Linked DNA regions of Homo sapiens: region 1 is linked to region 2. The links come from fine-mapping of genetic effects on gene expression. A gene starts in region 2. The other region holds a variant in brackets. All regions are shown on one strand. Distances are between the middles of the regions.

What was found. PIP is the estimated chance that this variant, and not a neighbour inherited with it, causes the effect.
Region 1: its variant is fine-mapped to the expression of SLC40A1 in whole blood (TOPMed, PIP above 0.99).

The regions. Positions count from the first base shown.
Region 1 is chr2:189,657,215-189,665,822 of GRCh38, forward strand. ASNSD1 (asparagine synthetase domain containing 1) reads left to right here and starts at 4,245. Exons shown (of 6, transcript NM_019048.4): 1 at 4,245-4,396; 2 at 6,687-6,740; 3 at 8,162-8,237. ASDURF (ASNSD1 upstream open reading frame) reads left to right here and starts at 4,245. Exons shown (of 4, transcript NM_001353493.2): 1 at 4,245-4,396; 2 at 6,687-6,740; 3 at 8,162-8,237. The coding sequence starts at 4,307. RefSeq lists an enhancer at 4,303-4,492. The variant CTG/C (reference allele first, on the strand shown) is at 4,091.
Region 2 is chr2:189,576,035-189,584,642 of GRCh38, forward strand. It overlaps SLC40A1 (solute carrier family 40 member 1), which reads right to left and starts at 4,752. Exons shown (of 8, transcript NM_014585.6): 1 at 4,384-4,752; 2 at 3,779-3,846. The coding sequence starts at 4,426. RefSeq lists silencers at 4,706-4,765, 4,836-5,005.

The DNA.
Region 1 (8,608 bases), 81 kb after region 2:
CTGCACATATACCCCAGAACTTAAAGTATAAAAAAAAGAAAAAAGAAAAATAATAGTTTTTATAAACCATTGAACAAAGAAAACTTTAGGCACAGATAAATTCACTGGAAAATTCTATATAATATTAATAGAAGAAATAACATTAATTCTACAAAAACTCTTCCAAAACATAGAAAGGAAGTATTAAAATAATAAATCGGAAGGCCATTACACTGAAGCAGCTCTAGAGCTGAGTGCCTACCTAAACAAACCAAAAGCTAAAAGGTTATATTCTAGGTAAACAGAACTTAGCTTAACCAATCAGAAACCAACAACTAACCTCTAACTAGGGATTTTCCAATGGAATGATCCAAATAAGGCTACTGGTCCACTTTAACCAATCAAATATTTTCTTTGCCTTGCATCCATATTTGAATCTTTGGGAAAGAGGTGGACAGTGGCACTCATATGGAATAGTTCTAGAAGAAGCCAAGATAATTTCGATTAACCTTCTTTATAGCTGTCAGACTATGTGAAGATACAACAGGCATGGGCAGCATATAAAACATCTTTCATTGGTGACATTCACAAACCACACTGACCTCTAGATTGTAAAACAGAACTACCAACAATGAAATTTTCAAATCCAACTGGCAGGAGAGCAGTGGATTGGAAAGAAGACGAATATGCTTAGATGAGGCATGTGAGGCACCTGGGCAGAAAATTTAAAGAGCACTTACTGCAGGACCTGAGAGTCAGTGCATCTTCAAATTTGCACCCTACCACACTCACCACATCCTGTTTCAGCCCTGCACAAGAGCTCCAAAGTGAAGTTGGCTGCAAGCGTCAGGGAGGCCTGATGTCCGCATTCCACAGCTTTGAAGCAAAGCTTGAGAACCAGCCTTATCTCAAGTAAAAAGGATTTACTAATCTCTAGACCAGTACTTGGAAACTCTGCCATTTCCCTTGAGAGACCAAGACCAGCCTGATGTGCTTTGTTACTAGGGCGACAAAGCATTCTCCCTGCGTTCTCCCTGCAAAGAGTTTATGGTAAGGATCCAGTAGTTCCTTTCCCAGATCCTAGAGCCTTGTGGAAAACATCAGTCCAATATCTCAGGCCCTGTCACCTTCTGGCAGAATTATTGATATAAATCACCTATTTAGACTGTGATATTACCTCTCCTTTGACTTCACCCCCTTGGTCCTACAGCCTACCTTACTTCCCCCTCTCCAACCCCCTCCCCCCACCGGCAATTACCAGCACTGTCTACTTGCTGAGATTTCCCTTTGGTCTGCTAGTCTACGCCTCTTAGAAGAGTCTGTAGTTGAGTCTGTCTCCTTTCAAATGACTTCCAGTCTGTCCTACCCATCAGAGTTAACAGAACCATCCAATCACTGTGACAACCAACAGTACCTCCAAACATTTTTTCAAGCATCAGCTAGGGAAACCCCTAGCTCTGTTGAGAATCACTGGAAGAGAAGACATAGTTTCCAGTTGTATGGTGGGCTGCAGATGGGCAGTCCTGAGCCAGTTAGGCATGACACATGGTACTAGCTAACCCCAAAGCTGACTTCAAGCAATGCAGAAGTTAGAGCAGCTGAAGGAGGAAATAGAAGCAAATAGATAAATATTTTTTAAATAAGACAAAGTGTGAAAGCACTTTTAAGACAGTTTAGCACCATACTAAAATTATTATCACCACTTTGTTTAGTACTATTTTGTTTAGTACTATGTTGTCTTGGGCAGCCCTTGTGAATAAACAAAAACATCAGAACCTGGCAGAGCCGTAAGCAACAGCCCACTTCCCAAAACGGGGTGAACAGCTGTAGACCAATCAGCGGTGTTGGGTGTTTCCGGCTACTCGATGTGGACATGATTGTGAGTCAGAACCAATTCAAACTTTAACCAGAGCTCCCACTCTGCCAGACACTATAATAGAAGGTGGGGTACAAAGAAGACCAATAGGCTAGGATGCTCAGTCTCATCAGCTTTACAGATAAGCCTCACTATTACCTCTAAACAAAGTGGAAGCCAGTCCTGGCAGCGCACACCTATAACCCCAGCATTTTGGAAGGCTGAGGCGGGCAGATAGCTGGAAGCCAGGACTTTGAGACCAGCCTGGCCAACATACTGAAACCCCATCTCTACTAAAAATACAAAAATCAGCCGGGCATGGTGGCACACACTTGTAATCCCAGGTACTTGGGAAGCTGAGGCAGGAGAATAGCTTGAATCCAGAAGGCAGAGGTTGCAGTGAGCAGAGATCGCACCACTGCACTCCAGCCAGGGCAACAGAGAAAGACTGTGTCTCAAAATAACAACAACAACAAAGTGAAGTGATACTTCACTTTGGAGCTCTCTTTTTCCTAAACTTGGATTCTTAAAATGTTTCTAAGCTAGCAGTTTTGTAAGAACTTTTTTCCTTAAAAATCTGGCACATTTAAAGTATTGGAAATTCTGGGCTTTTAAAAATATTGGGATTATACCAGTGCTTATTTTTCTCTATAAACTAGTCAGAACAGAGGCCCTTTAATTAGAGATACTATAGTGGGATTTATTAATACACTCCAGAAGTAGGGAAATATTTCATATTTACAAAGGGAGACATAAAGCCTGTTCTAAGTTACAGACACACAGACACATAAAGAGGTTATTGCTTCTGTCTTACAACTTCAATCTCAGGTCAAAAGTAAACACAAAACCACAAAAATTCACCAGTTCTTCTGCTTGAGCGGCCTTTATGTTAAAACAAACAAACAAAACCTTACTAGCCCACATCTCAAATAGCTGTCCTCCTTCCCTCTCAGTGGACACAAAAGTAATTAATTAATTTGAGCTCACAAACAATAAACAAAAAGACTTACAAACTCGCTTCTCTGTCACCTCTCTTATTTATTTATTTGAACCCCTGGCCTCAAGTAATCCTCCCACCTCAGCCCCGAGTGGTTGCGATTACAGGTTTGAGCCACTGCACCTATCTACCTCTCTACCAATGAGACTAGACGTCCATCATCCAACAGATACCACCAAATGGTTAGACCACAAAACCAAACTCCCAATCATTGCTGCTATCAATGTATCAGTAATGTATAAGTTATACCTGAATAACTTATCAGGAATGTACAAATCAGAAATGAAAACACAATCTTTAAAAATCAATTATAAAGGAAAAATATATAACCACTTGGGTTTTCTGTAAGAGCAAATAAAAAACATGCCTGGCCTTAAACAACCCATGATGTATACATTTCTTTCGCCAGATAGTTTGATTCATCACATAAATCCAGTTGGGCATCTCTGTGGAAACTTAAGATTTCCAATAATATAGTATAATTATCAAAAACCTAAAATCATGTCTCTAATGTGAACATAAAATATATACATGTCAAACTTTTATTCAACTCATTGGTTAGTGAGGGAACCGATGACTTTAAAACCAATACAGAATATTAGAGAAGCTAGGCATATGTTAATAAAGAAATGTTAGGACAGAATGCAGGGTTAGATACAAAACTGACTAATGTGTTGCAGAACAATAAATCATAACCTGTGTTGGTATCTGGTACAACAAAAAATTATTTGCATCTCTACCAAACCAAAATCTCTACCAAAGTTAACCTTTGCCCCTACAGAATTGTAAAACAGCCCAGTCAATATAATAAAGTCAAGTCCAGAGCAGCACTGAAAGAGCATCCAGTAAATAAATCTCTTTTGCCTATTTCCAAGTTTTAGTCATTTTTTCCACAGAAATGAGATATTGCAAATATTGCACGGGACATAGATGCACTAAAAAACTATTAATTCATCTGAAGTTCATACTGTATTTTATCCGGCAACCCTAACCACGAGTTAACCAAAACTTTACCAAGTCTGTACAGTTCTTTTGCCAACACGGTATCTCTTAAATCTGTTCCTTAGCTTCATCTTTCCCTAGATAATAAATATCATATTAAGCGCTGTTTCTATTGCACGACTATTCTTCATATTTACCACTGGAGGGCGCACAGAACTCGTAGTATACTAGATAAGAGGTCATGAAGAAACCACCTGAGCGTTTCTGCATCTCAACCACAAGAGGCCAGTACAGGAACCTCAGATTTTGCAACCAGA[CTG/C]TTTACTCGCTCCCTAAGCAGCCATGCGCAGGCGCGAAACTCCTCCCCAGGCCAGACCCGGCCTGCGCATGCGTTCAAGTGAGCGCGCAGACGCTATTGGTAAGACTCGCGGGAAAAGAAAGGGTGAGCGCGGCTGGAAGCGCGCATGCGCTGTGGCTAATGCCGTAGGCTCCTTCAGGGCTGAGCCATCCCGCGTGTCTTGCGCTCGGTGGAAATGCCCAGCCGAGGGACGCGACCAGAGGACAGCTCTGTGCTGATCCCCACCGACAATTCGACCCCACACAAGGAGGATCTAAGCAGCAAGGTGAGTGTGAGACGCGACGAAAAGGCTCCTGGACTCGGGACCGGGCGCCACTGGACCCTGAAGGTGGTCCGCAGCGGGCAGCGTGGGGCCTGCCTGGGCCTCGGCTTTGCCCTGCTACTTTGCTCTTTTTATTCATAGCACTTGACAGCCACAGTTAGTCCTTTTATTTTCTGAAAACAGTTGCGAAAAGGGAGATCTTGAAATTTGTCCCGAGACTGGACCCAGGTGACAGTGGGGCGGAGTTTTGGTTGGGTGTTTTCCTCCCTAGTCTTTTTAAACTTTTGGAAATACCGCCCACCCCAAATCTGTTCCATCAAAGATATTCTCCATCCAGTTAACCATGCCAGCAACCCGGGGTCCATCCTTGACCCCCATCATGGAAGCCTATCAGTTCTACCTTTGAAGCTCATTTCAAATATGTCCCTTTATCACCGTGAACACTCTTACCACCCCAAATAAGCCACCGTCATCTGCTATCGGGACCCCTGCCCCCGGCAAGGCCTTCCTAAGCGGTCTCTCCTCATCCACCTGTTAGCTGCTGCTTCTCCGTTAACCAGAGCAATGGTCCTAAAACACGCATTGGGTTGTCACTCATACCAAACTGGGGGAGAGAGGAAGCCAATATAATATAAGCCTTAACTGCCATAAACAAACAACCTTTAAAGATAAATGGGGGTGGCGAGGGTTATAGCCCTTCAGGTATTACATGTCCTAGATTCTACTTTGGTTCTGTCCCAAACTTACAATGACATCTTGGGCAAGTCTCTTTAATCTTTCTGTATCAGTTACCTTCTTTGAAGTAAAGTGAAATGTACACCTGTCATTCCTAAAATGGGAAAGCCCTGTATAAATGTTAAGTCTCAAAGAATGTTTACAAATTTGGCCTTGGAATTCAACCTCATTACTACAGCTCTGCCAACGGGGGAGACAGAAAGGTGCACATTCATGGGGATTGGGGGTGAATTTTCAAAAGACACACAGCCCATTCTGATTACCACCATAGCAAGCCACTTACGCATACTGGTGGTTACAGATCCCTGAGGTGTGTGTGAGGTAGCACAAATATGATAAAAGCTGCTTTTAGAGGCTCTTGTGATACTATGTAATCAGTCATGTTCACAAAATAAATAGAGTTAAAAAGAAACTTAGTTTTCACTTAGTTGAGCCCTCCCCTACAAATAAATGAAGCCCAGGCCAGCATGGTGGCCCAGGCCTGTAGTCCCAGCTACTCGGAGGCTAAGGTGTGAGAATCGCCTGAGCCCGGGAAGATCAAAGCTGCAGTGAGCCGTGATCGCACCACTGCACTCCAGCCTGGGTAACAGAGCAAGACCCTGTTTCAAAAAAAAAAAAAAAAAAAAAGCCCAGTTCAACAGTGCCAGCTCTATGCTAGTCATTGAGATAAAAAGAGGGAAAAATACCAAGATGGAACATGATAGGTCTTACTGTCCCCAAATAGGGCATTGCTTGATTTGAATGTTTGACTGCAGCACTTAGTACATAAAATCATGAAAATATTGAAAAAAGTAACCCACCCCTCATTCAATTTGCTTTTTTTTAAATCTAAATCACAACTTAATTTTCAATCTAAATCACAACTTAATTCCTTTTGGTGTATATCATATATATATATTTTTTAAATTATTTATTTATTTATTTTTTTGAGACGGAGTTTCACTCTTGTTGCCCAGGCTAGAGTGCAGTGGTGCAATCTTGGCTCACTGCAGCCTCCGCCTCCCGGGTTCAAGCAGTTCTCCTGCCTCAGCCTCCCGAATAGCTGGGATTACAGGCATGTGCCACTACGCTTGGCTAATTTTGTATTTTTAGTAGAGATGGGGTGTCTGCATGTTGGTCAGGCTGGTCTCGAACTCCCGACTTCAGGTGATCCGCCCGCCTTGGCCTCCCGAAGTGCTGGGATTACAGGCATGAGCCACCGCACCCGGCCTGGTGTATATCATATATTTTTAACAAAAGGTATAAACCTTGTTTAGTAACTGTAGTCCTTGGCATGATTGCTGGTTATGAACACGAAAATCCCTGTCTGGTCTTAATGGGTTACCTAACATTTTGCAAGTCTAATCACTGTTTTTTCTCCTCCAGCTTTTCCTGAACTGTACCCCCACACAGAGACTCCTGTTGAAAATGATCTGTATATTCACAAACTGCCCGTTTGGAAAACCAGTACATCATAGCCCCTTATCCCATCTCTAATTTTAAAACAACCCCTTAAGGGATTTTCATTGAGCATACTTTGAAAACATCTGACTTAAGGAGTTTTTCTTTATTTCAATAGATTAAAGAACAAAAAATTGTGGTGGATGAACTTTCTAACCTTAAGAAGAATAGGGTGAGTTATTATAGGAATTCTGAATAATATGTGGGAGGTTTATTTATGTTAACTATATATTAAAGTTATAAGAAGTATATATAAGATTTAATCATACTTTAATAAAATGTATAGTATTTCAGCATCTTTTAAAATTGCAAGTGTCTAGATTCTTTTTTTAAATGGATAGATCTCATAGCTGAAGATGTCTTTTTTCTATCATATGCCATTCACATTGCCTTTGCAACAAATGATACTAGTTGTATTTTGGTATCTTGGAGCTATAATCACTAATGATGTTTTATACCTGAATTTGATGTTTTCTTTTGATATAAACGAACTTTATATTGAGATGAGAAGAAACTTTTCTTTTAAATGAATGTGGATAATTATTGAACAAAAAAGGATACATTGCTTCCCCTCCCTCCAAAAAATTTTTACATAGATTTTCCTAAATGTGTAACATGGTTATTTAATGCCATTTCCATTAATATGTTACAAACAAGTAAGCTACTGCTTTGTGTATGGTTATAGTGTCAAATTGCATTTTAACATTCAGGAAGAAATGAGTTTGAGCTCTTAAAAGCTTTGTAAAGATTATGTAATAACTGGCTGGTTAGATATTTCTGATATTGTCACTTATGGAATATTAGAAGTTGAGGCACATACAAAAATTAGCCAGGCGTGTGCCTGTAATCCCAGCTACTCAGGAGGCCGAGGCACAAGAATCGCTTGAACCTGGGAGGCAGAGGTTGCAGTGAGCTGAGCACACCACTGCACTCCAGCCTAGGCTACAGAGCAGGACTCCTTCTCAAAAAAAAAAAAAAGAAGTTGAGGCAGAATTAATACAGACTTTCTCTAGAGGGCAAATTGGCAAAAAGTCTCAACAATTCAAAACTATAACACTTTGACCCAGCAGTTCCATTTATAGTAGTTGATACTTAGGAGAGAATCATGGTAGTGCACAAAGATTTAGTTACAAAGATAATCATCACAACCTTGATTTACAATAGCAAAGAGATGGTAACACCTTAAATGTCTAGTATTTGAAGCTGAGCAAATAAACTGTAATATATTATATCTATATAGCAGTAGGTATAATTTGGTCACCATAGCTTGCTTTGGCATTTTGGTGTTCTTGTAAAAGAACACTTACTGATAAGAAAAAGTATTCTCAATATATTGCTCATTGATAAAAGCATAAATCTGCAGGTACAGTAAGAACCTTTTTTGTTAAAATGGAGAGAAAATAGTTTCATTTCAGTAGTAGCAATTTCTGGTAGTTGGGCAGTGGGTGACTTTTATTTGTCTTTTTGCTTGTCTGTATTTGCTAAAGTATTGTACTGAATAGATTTTCAAGAATTAGTGATAATAGGGTTTAAGGATTTTAATATCTACTTTTTAGATCAAAATTTGATATTAGCCTAAATTATGTTTTCCAGAAAGTATATAGGCAACAACAGAACAGCAATATATTCTTTCTTGCAGACCGAACAGAAATGCTGTCTGAGAGCAAGAGTAAGTTTTTTCTTTTTTGGGGTTTTTGGGGGGTGCCTAAATTATACTCATCTGAGTGTTAAAATATATATCTAAAGATTAATGCAGCAGTTTGATTTTCTTCAAATTAGGCTTCCGAAGATGAGTCAACAGTTATATATATATGTGTATATATATATATATATATATATATATATATATATATATATATATATATTATAAATGTTTTAGAAAGCAATAGTTATTAACATGTGCTTTAGAATTTTAAACAGGTCTAAGTATGACAAACCATTACCACTTTCTACCTTTGTGACTTTGGGTGAAATACTTTAAGCCTCCAAGGTATTGTGGGATCTAAATAAGATGCTATGTTAAAAGTGCTTAGCCAAGTG
Region 2 (8,608 bases):
TATTTCTTCACACAAACTCCGGAGAATATAGGGAATTTTGGAGTTCATTACCGTGAAATGTGATTTAACAGAAACTTTTAAGTGAATTAGGCAAATTAATGTCTTAAAAAATCTACAGTGGACCTTATTATGAGATTTTAGGCTCCATCCCTGACTTCTGAAATTAACATTAAGGAGGACAACCATGTTCCATCATAACTTATCTCTGGGAATCCCTATAGGAAACCAAATTCCAGGCCTCATAGATTTGACCCTACAGAAATACTTCTACTCCTAGTTCTTCCCAAAGTCTGTTAACATCTTCATGAAAAAATCCATGTATTAGAAGCAAATACTATCCTGGTATGTCAAATAATTTTAAAAATTTAATGAAGCCAAGATAATAATTTTATACATTCAAAACTTAAATTGATGCATGTTAGCAATCATTTACAAAAAAACTTCCTGTAGACCAGTAGTTCTCAACTAGAGATGACTTTGCTTCTCCTACCCCCACCCCACCTCCCCGGGGATCATTTGGCAATGCCTGGAGTAATTTTGAGTTGTCACAACAGCAAGGGGGTGGAGCTGTTACTTAATCTTTAACCTGAAAAGCAAATTTAGATTTGATTAGGATAAAATGGGATAGGGAGAGGGGAGATACTTTATTCTAATCTCCATTCCTCTGAATAGCTCCCAAGGAAAAGACAAAAACACACACATGTCCCAAATGATAGGTTGCCTCTGTCAGAGAGTTTTCTCTTTCTTAACATACAGGTTAAGAAACACTTTTCTAATACTGTTGTTTCTTTCTTTTTTTCTTACTCTTATTGTATTTTTTAATTGTCTTAGAGTCCTCTAAAGCAAGACATCAAGACAAATGCTATTAAAGTTTTGAATCTTGCTTTTTCTTGCATGCCATACCACCTCTTTGATGGAAAGAAAGAAATTGCTCACATTACCCCAATTTCCAACGGGCTTAGGCTTTAAGAAGCAACAGATTCTATGTTTACAAAAAGCCCAATATTTGGGTAAAGTCTATGTAAATATTGACCAAGTGCCCATCCTTCCTTATTTCCATTTCTTGCCTTCCCACCAATTCTCACTAAACTTGGATGACCTATTTATGTGTCCATGTACCCCCACGGGACTGAGAGCTGAAGGCAAACCTAATAACTGTCAATGAATGATCATGGTCCTCAATCCACTTAATACTTACTAAGTGGCTACTATGTACCCGACATTTGCAAGCACTAGAGCTTCAGCAGCGCACAAAAGGTTTTCATGCAGCTCACATTCCAGTGAGCACAGACCAAAAGCAAATCTAGCACAGGGCACGTGCTGCTATGAGGAAATATAAAGTAGGATGGAGCTGGTGGCAACAAAGGCCTCCATGAGCAAAGTGAGCCTCTGGGAAACGAGGGCTGGAGAAATGCAGACATATTGGGGTTTAAATGGAGAGAGTTTGTAAGATCATGTTATCAGATATAAGCAACTGGCCCCTCTTTTTCACTGTCTTACACTGTCATCTTTTTGTTATTAGATATCTTTTTTAAAGCCCATACTAAATTGTATTATAAGCTCCTTGACAATAGTATCCACTTTTTTTTTTTTTTTTTGAGACAGGGTCTTATTCTGTTGTCCAGGCTGGAGTGTAGTGGTGTGATCACAGCTCACTGCAGCTTCAAACTCCTGGGTTCAAGCAATTCTTCCACCTCAGCCTCTCAGTAGCTGGGACTACAGGTGTGTCTCATGACACCTGGCTAATTTTTAAATTTTTTTTTGCAGAGACAGAGTCTCCCTATGTTGCCCAGGCTGGTCTCAGACTCCTGGGCTCAAGGAATCCTCCTGCCTCCCAAAGTGCTAGGATTACAGGCATGAGCCACTGCACCTAGCCAGGATCCACTTCTTACACTATATTGTATTTTGATAATATAGAGTAAAATGCATTGATCCATTGGCAGATAGAAATGAAGTCAGAAATAAAAGGCATTCAACCCCACACAAAACTAACCTGAGGCAACCTTCTACTCTAATGCCCCTACGTTCAGTGCATAAGAAATCATGACTTGGCAGGGTGGGACGGAAAATGCATATATATATAATACATATACACACACACATAATACAGAAACATAAATGTTTTGTTGTAACAAAATCAGGCAGAGTGCCACACAAGAGAAAAAACATAAAAAGCATAATTACCTAGTGTTAGAGACATTCCTCTTTTGCACTCCTTTGCAGCGGAAAGGAGTAAAAATCCACTAAACCTTATATGATTGTAGTTGCTGCTGTTTGTTTAATCCAACTTTCTCATGAGAACTTCCTTTGCTTGACTTACTGTAAAGTTGGGATAAGCATGTGTCACCTTTCTTGTGGGACTTTTAATGAACATGACAAAATATCCTCCTGGAACAACCACGGTGCCACTGGTTTTCTGGCAAATCTGACCTCCTAACCTATTAACCAAAGGTCACATAAACCATAATCAGAACTTGGAAGAGAGGCATCTTCTTCCTCTAAGAGCAAGGCCAGACCACAGGCTGAGAATTTCAGATACTATTCCCATCACATGTTATTAATACTTAATATTTACTGAATTAAACTGGGGGAACAAACTATTGCTTTTTATTTATTAAGGGTTGTTTCACTAGGTTTCTACTTAGCATCATCAGCTGTTGGAATTAAAACAAACTCACACCAATTCCACTTTGTTTACATGTATTTGCAGAGTCACCCCTGTGTAAGCCTCTGGTAAGATAGGAGCTTGCTTTTCTAAAATGTCATCTATAAACTGCTATTTCTTAGAGAACCAATAATGTAGCTTAACAATTTCTCAAAGGTATTGGGTATAGATTTCCTCTTCCAGTGGTTTCCATCCATGTCTTAAGGATGATCCAATATAAGTTTCCAATTTAAAAGGAAAATAACATTCAAAAAATTTACTCTCAAAATTCTTTCCATTCTTTTTAAATACATATGAGCCATGGACAGAATATAGCCAGATTTATTGCTTTTAAACAATAATTGTTTAATGTTAAAGATTCTAATCATCACTGAACATATATCTAGCACCCTTCTAGTTTATTATTTTTCGGAGAGAGTTTTAGGAGCCCAGATCTACAGAAACACTAGGTCTTTTCCAGGACAACCTAGAAAGTCAGAGGGAAAACTGTAAATCCATTGCTGATATTCATTGGATGATTAATTTTAAGATAGCCTCCACTGCCCCAAACTTTATCTAACTATAGATAACATTTTTAAAGACCAGAATTTTTGTCACTCAGATATTTGTTCTGGGGGTCATTTATGTTTCAATTAATCTTAGAATGTTATTATTAGCTTAAGTCAGTCACTCTACCATTCTATTGTATTCTCATGGTGCTGCACGCTGGAACTAAATTTTAACAAAAAAAGAAAACAAAATATTTTAAAATGTGAAGAAGAGAAGGTATATGAGACATCCATCCATCTTTTGTAGCAGATATGTCTATTTACCAAAGCTACTAATGCAACATAAAATTTAAAAACAAGGCAAATATTCCTTTCCTTGATAATCTTGTCTGGATAGTTGTCTATCTACATAAACTACGATGATCTGATAATTAAGTTGCATTAACTAACACTCATGGGGAAAGATCTTCGATGTAAATAACGTTTTCATTAAAGCATGTGTACTTGGATGATTTATTTCTTTAACTGCTTGACAAAACTGGAAGTTGGCTTAATACAACTGGCTAGAACGAAAGGAAATAAAAAATTGCGCAACTGTGTTGTAAGACTATGCATTCTCACTTACCCAAGTAGAGAGAGAATGACCAAGGTAGAGAAGGAATTTTGCAGAGGTCAGGTAGTCGGCCAAGGATCCTGCAAAGACACAGGCGGGGTGACAAAAAGCGATGGTAGTCACTTAATGAGCTGAGGGCAGAATGCTTATCCATTTGATCTCATTAGAACATGATTATTAAAAACTACTTTGCAGGACAAACCACGTACATTTTATCAAGTTACCTATGAACCGATGTATTTCGTTCACTTAATACCATTCACTAAATTCAGTTATTGACCTAGTCAATAACTGCCCAACTTCACATTTCACATACAGTGAAGAAACTCTTGTTTCAGCATTCTTTTTTGGGTTGGTTGGTTTGTTTGTTTTGTTTCTTTTTTACACAAGGCAATCCAAACTGCCCAATCTACTCCATCCGTGCCTGTGTGCAAACCCCTTTTCCCACACCCTGAATTTCCTTTCTTCCTTAACGTCCACCAAATATGAGTCAAAGGATCTTTTTACAAAGCTATGGTTCACAGCAGAGCCACATTCCTCCAGAACTCGTGTAGAGTTGCTTGTCTCCAAAGCCCCACCTGGGTTTCCACCATATGCTTTCGGTCAACGACACTCACCACAGCATCCTCTCTGGCGGTTGTGATCTCCCGCCCTGGTCATGACACTAGGCGACCCCGCTGGCTCTTCTGCGGCTGCTATCGCTGCTGCTGCTCTCGCTGAGGTGCTTGTTAACAGGAGTGCAAGGAACTGGAGATAGCACCTCTAAAAACACAACAGCCTTGGGCAAAAAGACTACAACGACGACTTTGGCAAAGAACAAAAGAAAAGGGGCCCAGGGATTTTCTTTTTTCCTTCTTTCCAAACTTAGCTAACACTGTAGCTGAAGTTGGAAAGGCAAAGCCTTATGGAAGCGGTTTGGGAGGCTCAGCAGGTCGTCCGAGCCTAGCGGACGCCCTGAGCCAGCTCTCTCCGCCGCCGCCGCCGCCGCCGTGGGCCGGGCCCAGCTCTTATACCGAGTCGGGGGCGGAGCTCCCTGCGACCTCCGACTGGGGCCGCCCCGTCCCCTTCAGGGCCGCCCGGGCGTCCCCGCGGCGCGAGACGAGCTCCCGTCAACCTTGCGCGCCGGGCCGTCCCCGCGCCCTTGCCCGGAGGAGTCGCCCACCCCGGGCGCAAGCGTCCAACCGGCCGCAGACACCCTGCGCGGCTTGCGGGGACCTTCGCCTCGACGCGTTCCACTCCCCGGGTTTTCCTGCTCTCCGGGAAGCCGCGAGGGCAACCTCGGGGGGCGGCCGTGGGGCTGGGAAAAGGAGGAAGGCGCGTGGAGCCGGCGGGGCGGCGTAGGGAGATTCTGCGCGAAACTAAGCGTCAGGTGCTGGAAGAAAGCGCTGCGCACCGGCTACCCCGCAGTTCAGGGAAAGGGCGGCCGCCGGACGGTCGCAGTGCAAAGCTCCAGCGCGAGCTTGGTGGGTGGGGATTCCTTTTTTAACGAAAATAATTTTTAATACAGGTATCTAAATAAATATAATTCATGCCACAGAGGCCGCTTTCCTGGCCGTCCCATTCCGGCCCGCCTGCAGCAGAGAATGCCTTTCCTTCCCCGGACTGCATAGCAGGGCTTCCCTCAAAGAACCAGAATCAAAGGGCAGGAAGGGGGCGCAAAGATCAGAGTCCATCCCTCTTGAGAGGAGCAAACGGAGGCTTGCAAAGGTGAAGTCCCGCAGCGAGTTACAGACCTACCCGTATCCCCAAACTGGGGCCTCCAAATCCGTCCTGGAGACAGAATGAGGATGCTGCAGCCCCAGCAAACCCTTCACCATCATTCCTTCTCCCTCTGTACCCTCTCACCCCGCCCCCACGCGCGCGTCCCTTCCCCACCTAACCTCCAAATGCCCCAGTGACAGGCTTACCAGGAATACCGGTTATCCCAGTTGTGTCCCTGGATCTGTCCCTGTCCAGATAAAGCCATTCGGTGGCCTCCTGGAGGGTGAGGTGAATGACTAAAGAACACCAGACTCTAGCCTTGGTTGACTTCGTTTTAATCCTGCTGTGCCAAACCAACCCCTGGGGCATACCAGCCCCTTTTGCCAGTAGGTTACCTTACCCTTCTTAATCTCACGAAAACCCTGGTAGTGGATCCTACATATTGAAACTCCAACCAGATGCCACACCTTGAGCACAGGCCAGACTGACACCCAGTAGTGAAGGGAGCCACGCATGAGTATGTGCCCTGTATCTGCACTCTCAATCAGGAGCCCCAAAGGTCTACGGGGTGGGTGCAGCTGGATTCGGTTGGGATGTGGTCTGGTGAGTAGAGATAGGGGTTACAGTTTAACTACTGCTTTTCACTGCTTTTTGCCTTTTCAAGCCCTCTTTTTTCCTTTCTTTCACACGACATTCAAGTTCTTTCTCCCAATTTAGAGAGGTTTTGGTTTGCTAACCGTGGAGAATAGGGTCATTTATACATGCATCCTTGAGAATAAACCAAAGTATACTCAGATGAGTGAACTAAAGTGAAGGAGTGAACTGGTAAATAAACCCCTCCACTTTATGGCGATCCCTTATTAGAGATGAATTTTTTGACAGGTCCTCAACAAGGCACAAAGGATAGTGATAGTTTGCACATTTGTCAGAGTGTGTCTCAGCAACAAGGACCTCCAAGTGCTTTACATTAATTATTACATATTATAAGAAGGGGTGTCATGCTGTCCCCAACTTCCAGGTGGCTTTTTAAAAGTTCGGTTGGTTAAAAAAAAAATTACTTCCCGTAGACACTGTTTAAGAAGTATTTGTGGAAAGAGTGGCTAAGTCAGCATATACCTCAAAATGTGATATGGAGTCTCTGTTCTCCATTGTCACCAAGGAGTCCCCAGAAGCCAAAACCGAGAGAATGTTATAAAGAACAAATGGGATACTGCAGTGAAGCAAGTAGGAAAGATACTTTGGAAAGAAAACAAGCAAGGTTCATGACATTAAAACCAGTGAGTGAGCTGTGGAAGGGGAATCTTAAATCCTAATTAATGAGAATAGTTGAGATATGTTAGTTGGGGCTTATGAAATGGAAAGAAATTGAAAATGAAAATAGAATAAAAATCCTCAAACTATTCAGAAAGTGCAAAATGACAGAATTCTTTTGGCTTTGACATGCTAGGTTACAAAGCACCGCTTTAATCACAAGACCCTTCGGGCTCTTCCTCCTTCTGAGAAAACATTTGACCAGTTGAAAATTAAGATTTCTTCCAAAAGTCATATATATGTTTTTGAGAACACAGAACATACAACATTCCCATCAATTTAATCTAACTAAGAAAGTCATGCAAGTTTTAAGTCAGTTTACAAAAAATAGTAGATACCCTAAAGACCATGTGCCAATTCATTTTCAACATGTTTTAAAGTTTGTAACTAGGTTAACCACCTTTTTAAAAATCCCAGCCAGAATAAAATGTATATGGCTATTTAAAATTCATTTAAAGTGTTTATAGTTGGGAAATAAAAACGGTTTTATCATTTCATTTTTAAGTTGTCTTTTCACTTACCGGCCAGGCATCCTCAGTTTCCTCTGCCATATCAGATGTGCTCACCAGGACAAAGGCAGAATAAAGAATGGTCACTATTCCACTGCTCTGAAGAAAAAAAGTAATAGGGTTATCACCAACTATTACAGGAAGGGCTCCAATCCAGGACTGTGCTTCTGTTGGATGTGAACCTTTTTACATTAACTTAGGAGCTATAAAGCCACGTTTCCATTCAAAAATCTTTCTCAGTGTTACAGGCAAATTTCAAGAACGGTTTTATATTTCTATAATATGAATGAATGGCTCTTGAGAAGTTTAAGTTCAACATCTACTTTAAATTACAGACATCCTATTGAAAGATAAATATCCTCCCAGGTCTTCATTTTGTTTGAACATTTCAAATAGATTTGACCTTGCGAAGTTTCTTATGAATGCTGGCTCTCATTGGGGGTGCTCTCTTGCTTCCTCTCTCTCATACACACACACACACACACACACACACACACACACATATACACAGTAGTCTACAGTTTCTAGTTGGAAAAATTAAATACAGAATTCAGAAGATTCCAAAAGAAATATACTCCTAAGGCAAATCCATAGAGACAGAGAGCATATTGGTTGTTTTCAGAGCCTGGGAGGAGGGAAGAATAGGTAGTGACTGCTTTATGGGTGTGTAGTTTCCCTTTGGGGTGATGAAAATGGTCTGAATCTAGATAGTGGCAATGGTTTTGCCACAATGTGAAATAATAAAAGTCACCAAAATGGCTCAAGTGGTGAATTTTATGTTATGCAAATTTTAGCTTGATTAAATATATATATATTCTTAAAAGGAAAGTTTGCCATTTTTCAATAATGGTATTGATTGAGATAAATGTAGGCCAAATGTAGTCTCAGGAGATCTTAATCAAATAGAAAGAGACTGTAGAAAGAAAAAAAGAGAAGTCTTGTCCATTACGCTGACTGGAAACTAAAACATGGAACTAAGTTAACTGTTTAGTTTTCTCCATATACAGCCAGAAAATACATAAAATTCTATTTAATAAATATTTCAGTCTCTTAACTTTTGCCGTGGATCGTCACTTTTGCTGTCTAATCTAACTCTCTCATGTTACAATGTCAAGTCTGTTCTCCTGTATTCTGTCTGAATTCATTAAAGCGCAAAACAAATGCTTGGTATCACCACAACAGTATCCCCTTCACGTTCTCCAGATGCTGCTCAGCCTTGCCTTCCTCAGGTTGTATAAACAGGGATGGATTTCCCAAGTGTTCAGTTATTTTAGCTGGTATTCTCGATGCCCTTTTCAACAGCAATTTGATTGCAAGCCCC